Homo sapiens: one gene and its partner. The protein of the gene in region 2 purifies or fractionates together with the protein of the main gene of each other region. This does not show direct contact. Each region holds a gene or a part of one and is shown on either strand. Other genes may lie near its edges. The genes, in order: ESPN and RAB37.

Region 1 (3,145 bases), on a different chromosome or scaffold from region 2:
CCCTGCAGCTAATTAAAAAAAATTTTTTTTGCAGGCCTGGTGCGAAGGCTTACGCCTGTGATCCCAGCACTTTGGGAGGCTGAGGCGGGTGGATCACCTGAGGTCAGGAGTTCGAGACCAGCCTGACCAACATGGCAAAACCCGGCCTCTACTAAAAATACAAAAATTAGCCGGGCGTGGTGGCGGGCGCCTGTAATCCCAACTACCAGGGAGGCTGAGGCAGGAGAATCACTTGAACCCAGGAGGTAGAGGTTGCAGTGAGCCAAGATTGTGCCACTGTACTCCAGCCTGGACAACAAGAGCAAAACTCTGTCTCAAAAAAAAAGAAAAAAGCCAGACTTGGTGGCTCATGCCTATAATCCCAGCACTTTGGGAGGCCGAGGCGGGTGGATCGCTTCAGGTCAGGAGTTTGAGACCAGCTTGGCCAACATGGTGAAACCCCATCTCTACTAAAAATACAAAATTAGCTGGGTGTGGTGGCACACGCTTGTAATCCCAGCTACTTGGGAGGCTGAGGCAGGAGAATCACTTGAACCCAGGAGGCAGAGGTTGCATGAGCCCAGATCGCCACTGCACTCCAGATTGGGTGACAAGAGTGAAACCCCATCTCAAAAAAAAATTTTTTTTTTTTTTTTTTTTTCGCAGAATGAGGTCTCACTGCATTGCCCAGGCTGGTCTCAGACTTCTGGGCTCAAGTGGTCCCCCTGCCTTGGCCTCTCAAAGTGCTGGGATTACATGTGTAAACCACCATGCCTGGCCAAAGACTTACTTTTACAAGAGGAGTATAAAACATCTCATTAATAATTTTCATAATTGATTATGTGTTGAAATAATATTTTTGATATTTTGTGCCAAATAAAACAGTACTAAAATGAAGCTCACCTATATCCTTCTACATTTTCACTGTGGCTACTAGAAAATTTTAAATTACATCTGTGGCTCTCATTACATTTCTATTGGCCAGCACTGGGCTGGGTGAGATGACTAGGGGCAGAAAGTACATTCTGAGGGCCAGACAATCAAGGTGATTGATAGTGGGGTTAGGTTAACTGAAGGGTAGAAAAGGCCAGGTTAATAGGAGGCAGGGACTGAGTAACCGGGAACAAAGTTATTAGAGCATGAGAGAGAGATTCTGGGGTATTATAGGGAGGAAGGAGGCTGTGCTACAAGGGCCAAGAGACAGGAGGATGTACTCAAATTGGCCTGGATGAAGGGACGACCCTCTGCGACTTGGGTGGGGATAAGGGTGGCAGGTTGGGGCCAGCCCTGCACTCACCGCTTCTGCTCCCTGGAAGGAAAAAGAGACAGTGTCACTTGGTACCTCCACCTCAGGGACGCAGTCAAGACACCCTGCCAGGCCAGCCTCTGCCTGACCCCCAGCTCACCTCTCTTCTTCCAGCTTCTTCCGCAGGAGGTCCCGCCTCCAGGCGGGCATGCTGGCCAGCCGGGCCTCCTCCTCCTCCTCCTGAAACACAACCACAAAGCTTCAGGGCCTGCAGGGGCTGGGAGATAGGGGGCACCCTCAACCTCGGGACCTGAAGGAGTCAGGGTCACAGGAAGACATCCTTTTGATGCACATCTGTGTGACAAGTGGATGGAGGTGCCTGGTCACACCCCCTCAGAGCTGGCCTCCTTTCCCCTAGTAACCCAGACCCTCATGTCCTACAGGAGGCACCAGAGAGATCAGAGCTGAATGGGACAGAAGCAGAGAACAAGTAGCTGGGACCCAGAGGTCCTGAGCCTGATTCCCCGCAGAGGCAGGTGGCCAATGGCCACAGGCCCAAGACCTCTGGGCAGACGCAGATGCCAGCCAGCCCCCACCCAGCCTCTTGGCTCAGGGAGACTCAGGCTGCCCCTGGCTCCCCTGTGAAGGACCTTCACCCCATGGTTGCCATCTTCCCAATAGAGTGGATACGGGCACTACAATCGTGGGGCTACAATGACATCAGGGGCAGGTGTGGTGTCCAACGCAGGCAGTTTACAGCAAAGAGTTTTATTTCCTGAATGTTACAGAGGAGAACGGGTCTGTACACGGCACACTTCACACAGAACACTGCACACGTGGCACCCTTGACCTCAGCCAAGGAGGTAGCTGTGAACTCCAGTGGAAAACCAAAGAGCAGGCCACACTGCCGCAAGGAGGAGCCGCAGCCCCTCACTCAGAGGGGCTTCTTCTGCTGCCTGGCTCCACACAGAGCTCAGCAAGGCCACGGGGCCAGAGGCGGACACCTGGTCTGTTCTGTGCCTGCCCTGCCTATCCGACCAACGCCCCACAGCCCGCCACGATGGGACCTCAGAGGCTGAGGCAGCCTGGTCCTGGGCCCTCCGGGCTGCTCAAGGCCACAGTCCTGGGCTCTTCCTGCTGCTTCCAGCCTCTGGAGGGCGTCAGACAGGCGTCCAGGCCCACGTTAAGACGCTCGAGGGTGAACTGAGAATTCCGAATTCCGCTGCTCAGATGTCAAACAGCTCTGCCTCCTTCTCTTTCCAGAAGGAGAAGCTGCGGTCGATGTAGCGGCAGATGTCCTCGTTGCTGAACTCGCCCATCTCAGACACCAGTTCCAAGGGGTCTTCGGCGGGGGCTTCGGAACCAGGAGAGTCTGAGGTCGGGGGAGGCGCGGCGGGCGGGGGCGGCGGCGGCGGCTGCGGCGCAGGGGCCAGGGCCTCGGGCTGCCCCTCAGGCGGGTCCCCCGTCTGAAATGGAGCAGCCTCTTCGGTCCGCTCCTGTTCTTTCCCCTCCTCTTCCTTTTCCTTCGCCTGTTCTTCGGGGGCCGGCTCAGCCTCCAGGCCGTTTCCGAAGAACCGGTGCCTGAGGTCCTCGAAGCCGTCGCTCCAGCCGCGCCGGCCGGCCTCCACCTCCTCCAGCACCACGCGGTGGAAGAGGCGGATGCGCTCCCACGGGTGGCTGCCCAGTCGGTCGAACATCTCGTAGCACAGTAGGTGGCGGAACTTGCGCTCCTCGCGGCTCAGGCCCATCTCGAGTAGCTGGAAGTAGCCGAGCATGAAGAGGTCGAGCGTGAGGCTGTCGTAGTGCGGGGGTGCGCCGCCGTCCAGGGGCGGCAGGAAGTGCTGGGGCCAATACAGGCCGTGCGCCAGGCCCGGGCTTGCCGGCACGCGACGCAGCAGGCTCCGCCAGTGGCCCAGCAGC
Region 2 (3,811 bases):
TTCTTGGAGTGTCCTGTTAAAGATTCTAAGACCACATAAGGGTTTCAGTGATCAAAAGTACTGTGATTGATTAGTGATGTCTGCCATGAGCATGGGGTTGGAGGTAGGAGTATGAGTGCCATGGATTTTCCTCTTTCTATATAAACGTTTTATTCTCCTAGTTTGCTTATCAGCAAACTGTCCTTGAGGTCAGGGGATTCATGAAACCTATACAATGTCGTGAACAAAATTGGTGCTTGAATTTATCAAATTTTTGTCTCTATAATAGTTTGGTTGTGAGGATACAACCACTCACTCTGTCTGACTGAGTCACTTTCTTGCAACTTGCCCTGGATGTATGTGTGGACTTTTCTGGTTGTGTTTTTCCCTTGGTCTCTGTGGATAATTATCCAGGGTGGAGTGGGGGCTGTTCTGAACACTTTGTCACGAAACACACTCGTGAATCACAGTGAGGGCTATGCAGGTGGCACAGGGTCACAACAGCCTGCTTGGCCTTCATGCCCACATGGCCACCAAATACAAAGCAGCAGATATGACTTCTGAGTCACAAGTAGGTGTTTTTCAGAAGGCAGGAGGACTCCACGCTCCACCCGCTTTCCACAGGGCAGGAAGCAACCCCAGCCTGCATAGACCTTGCCTTGGCTGCTTATGGGTGGGAGTCAGGGGAAGGGAGGACCTACCCTGATGTTGTCGAAAGAAGATTTGTTGGTGATGTCATACAGCAGAAGCAAGGCTGGAGGGGAGAGGATCACAGAGGGGACTTAGGCAGCAGCACGGATGCTACCAAGGGGCTGGGGTAGGGGTTGGAGGGTGCGAGGGACTCACCCTGAGCATCTCTGTAATAAGCATGGGTGACGCTTCGGAACCGTTCCTGCCCAGCGGTGTCCCAGATCTGGGAAGGGATGGGATGGAGAAATGGTCAGAAGGAGGCAGGTGCAAGGAATGTGCTGGGTGGAGCAGGCCTGCTTTGTTGTATGAGATATCTGTGGGAAGGTGGGGCTGTTTTCTTCTTTAGGTTCTCATGAGCCCCTGAGCATCCAATGACCTGGACAGTAGCAGTTACTGATTTCTCAAGCTCGTTCAAAATCATCTCCTCAGCCGAGCGCGGTGGCTTACACCTGTAATCCCAGCACTTTGGGAGGCCGAGGCAGGCGGATCACGAGGTCAGGAGATCCAGACCATCCTGGCTAACACAGTGAAACCCCGTCTCTACTAAAAATACAAAAAATTAGCCAGGTGTGGTGGCATGCACCTGTAGTCTCAGCTACTCAGGAGGCTGAGGCAGGAGAATCTCTTAAACCTGGGAGGCAGAGGTTGCAGTGAGCCGAGATTGTGCCACTGCACTCCAGCCTGGGCGACAGAGCGAGACTCCATCTCAAAAAAAAAAAGAAAAGAAAAGAAAAAAAAAGAATCTTCTCCTCTCCCCTAGCTCAGGGGTTGGGGATGTCCAATCTCCTAAGAGCAGATAAAGCCCTGGCAACTGGGGAGGAGATGGATGGAGGCTAAGCTTGTCTGAAGGCATTTGGAGCTGCTGTTCATAGATGAGAGGGTGCCTGGGAACTGCTTTTTCTGCAGATGTCAAATAAACAAAAGCCATTTCCTCCCGTGGGCCCCACAGGAAATTGCCCCAGGCGGAGGGCAGGGCTGCAGGCCTCCTGTGGTTCAGGGTGAGAAGGAAGGGCAGGTCCTCCATCCTCCCTCCCCAACTCCAGCCTCTGGTCTCACCTGCAGCTTCACTCTCACGCCATCCACAGTCACCACCTTGTTCTGAAAGAGAAAAAGGCAGAGGATGGGAGGGCAGGAGTCATGTGGCTCCTCAGCTCTGCAGACGTCCTGTCTTGTTCCCTCTCCAGGCCTAGAGTGGGTGCAGTGAGCCCCAGAACCGTCTCCAGCCAGATCATACCATCAGGGCAGCAGGAACCCCATACCCAGACACCTCCACTGTGGAGTCGTCCCTTCTGAGGACTGTAACTGCCTTCTCACAACAGCAGGGCAAGAGGAGCCTGAGAAACATCCTGGCTCTCTCCAGGGATCAGGCAGCCCAGGGCTGGAGGGCTGGTTGCTGCTGGAGGCCCTGCCCTTTTCCCACTTCGGTCTCCCTCTCCTGGAGCCTAGCCTTGGGACTGTGACCGAGCCCCTGGAGATGGGGTGTTTGCCTGCATCCTGGGGACCTGAGGCTACATCTGCAGCAGCACCTTTTCTTTAGCTGCCCACTAATTCTCTAGTGAAGGAAGTGTTCGCTTTCTGCCTGCTTGAAGCTGTAGAGCCCCACCTGCCAGGGTGAGACCTTTTCTCTATTGAACACTTCAGGTGTGCAGCGTCTAGCATCCCTGATGCAGATTTGTAAGATGGAGTCGTCAAGGTGAGAGGGAGGGTCCCTGGTGAGCTGCTGTCTCCCAACATGGCCAGCCCAGCTCTTTTTTTTTTTTTTTTCTGAGACGCAGTCTCACTTTGTTGCCCAGGCTGGAGTGCAGTGGCGCGATCTCAGCTCACTGCAACCTCCACCACCCGGATTTGAGCGATTCTCCTGCCTCAGCCTCCCGAGTAGCTGGGACTGCAGGAGCGTGCCACTACACCTGGCTAATTTTTGTATTTTTAGTAGAGACGGGGTTTCACCATGTTGGCCAGGCTGGTCTCAAACTCCTGACCTTGTGATCTGACCGCTTCGGCCTCCCAAAGTGCTGGGAATACAGGCAAGAGCCACCATGCCCGGCCCAAGCCCAGCTCTTAAACCCAGTGCAGGGCTGTGCTTTCTGGGAACTCCAGAAAGACTGATTGACCTTTGAGGCCTTTCCAAAGGGGCCCAGGTAGGAGAGCAATGAGCAGGGGCTCTGTGGGCCAAGATATTCAGCTTATGCCGTGCCTGCGGCTGCTCTGCTTGGGAGAAGTCCCCCAGGAATGGAGCTGGAATCGAAGACTCAGTCTCATTTTTTTGCATCCTATAGTTGGGCAAGGAGCCAACCTTGCCCAGTCTCCTTTGACCCGGCCACCTCTGTGGTCTTGGGGGAGCGGGTTGTGTGCCCTCCAGGCATGAGCCTCGGGAGTCCCTGGGAGCCAGGGTGAGCAAGGTGGGGGCAACCCCCCCATGCCTGAGCCACAGCCCTGGCTCTCTGCTGGAAGCAAGTGCCTGCAGCCACCTCACCCTGAAGTCTATGCCGACGGTGGCTATGAAGGTTCCGGACAGGAAGGCCCCGTCTTTGAATTGGATCAGGAAACATGTTTTGCCGACGCCTGTGTCTCCCAGAAGCATCACCTAGGGGGTAGGGGCAGAGGCAGTTAATGGGGAGTCAGGGGCAGCTTCTGGGATTCCAGGAGAGAGACACATGGAGAGGATCAGAGAAGAGGGGGCTGGCACGAATGCTGACCGCACCAAAGGCCACCTGCTTCCAGAAAGCCAGCCGCCATCTTCACCCTGTCTCTCCTCTCCACGCTCCTTGGCTCAGCCTCCTAGGCTCTCCCTCTGACCCTCCTGTCCTCATTCAAGTTCCTAGAGGCCGGAGTTGAGACCTCACCATGAACAGGTCCCCAAGTGTGCTCTGTGGCCCCAGAGAACCACCACATTTGCACAATCTAGACAGTGGCCACATTTGCCCATAGCCACACCATGCAGGGATTCCGTCCCTCTGTGTACTTGTGTCATCCATCGTCCGCTCGTGAGTACACGCATGGGCTGGGCTATACTGACAGGAAAGGGAAGTGTCAATATATTGGACAAGGATTCCCACCCAAGGGAGTCTATCAGAATCTGCTGGGGGTGGGGCATGGTCATTTGCATACTCTATAATGAATATTGTTTGGGTTTTTTTTTTTG

The links.
Region 1: the proteins of RAB37 (region 2) and ESPN purify together in Homo sapiens (affinity purification with mass spectrometry; one large-scale study listed by BioGRID and IntAct). This does not show direct contact.

What each region holds. Positions count from the first base shown.
Region 1 is NC_000001.11:6,455,504-6,458,648, reverse strand, and holds part of ESPN (espin), read right to left. Parts: coding exon of another isoform or gene 2,452-3,145; exon of another isoform or gene 1,978-2,451; intron 1,466-1,977; coding exon 1,386-1,465; intron 1,289-1,385; coding exon 1,277-1,288; intron 1-1,276. UniProt on the Homo sapiens protein: Multifunctional actin-bundling protein. Plays a major role in regulating the organization, dimension, dynamics and signaling capacities of the actin filament-rich microvilli in the mechanosensory and chemosensory cells.
Region 2 is NC_000017.11:74,740,210-74,744,020, reverse strand, and holds part of RAB37 (ras-related protein Rab-37), read right to left. Parts: intron 3,254-3,811; coding exon 3,143-3,253; intron 1,768-3,142; coding exon 1,726-1,767; intron 893-1,725; coding exon 826-892; intron 734-825; coding exon 681-733; intron 1-680. UniProt on the Homo sapiens protein: The small GTPases Rab are key regulators of intracellular membrane trafficking, from the formation of transport vesicles to their fusion with membranes.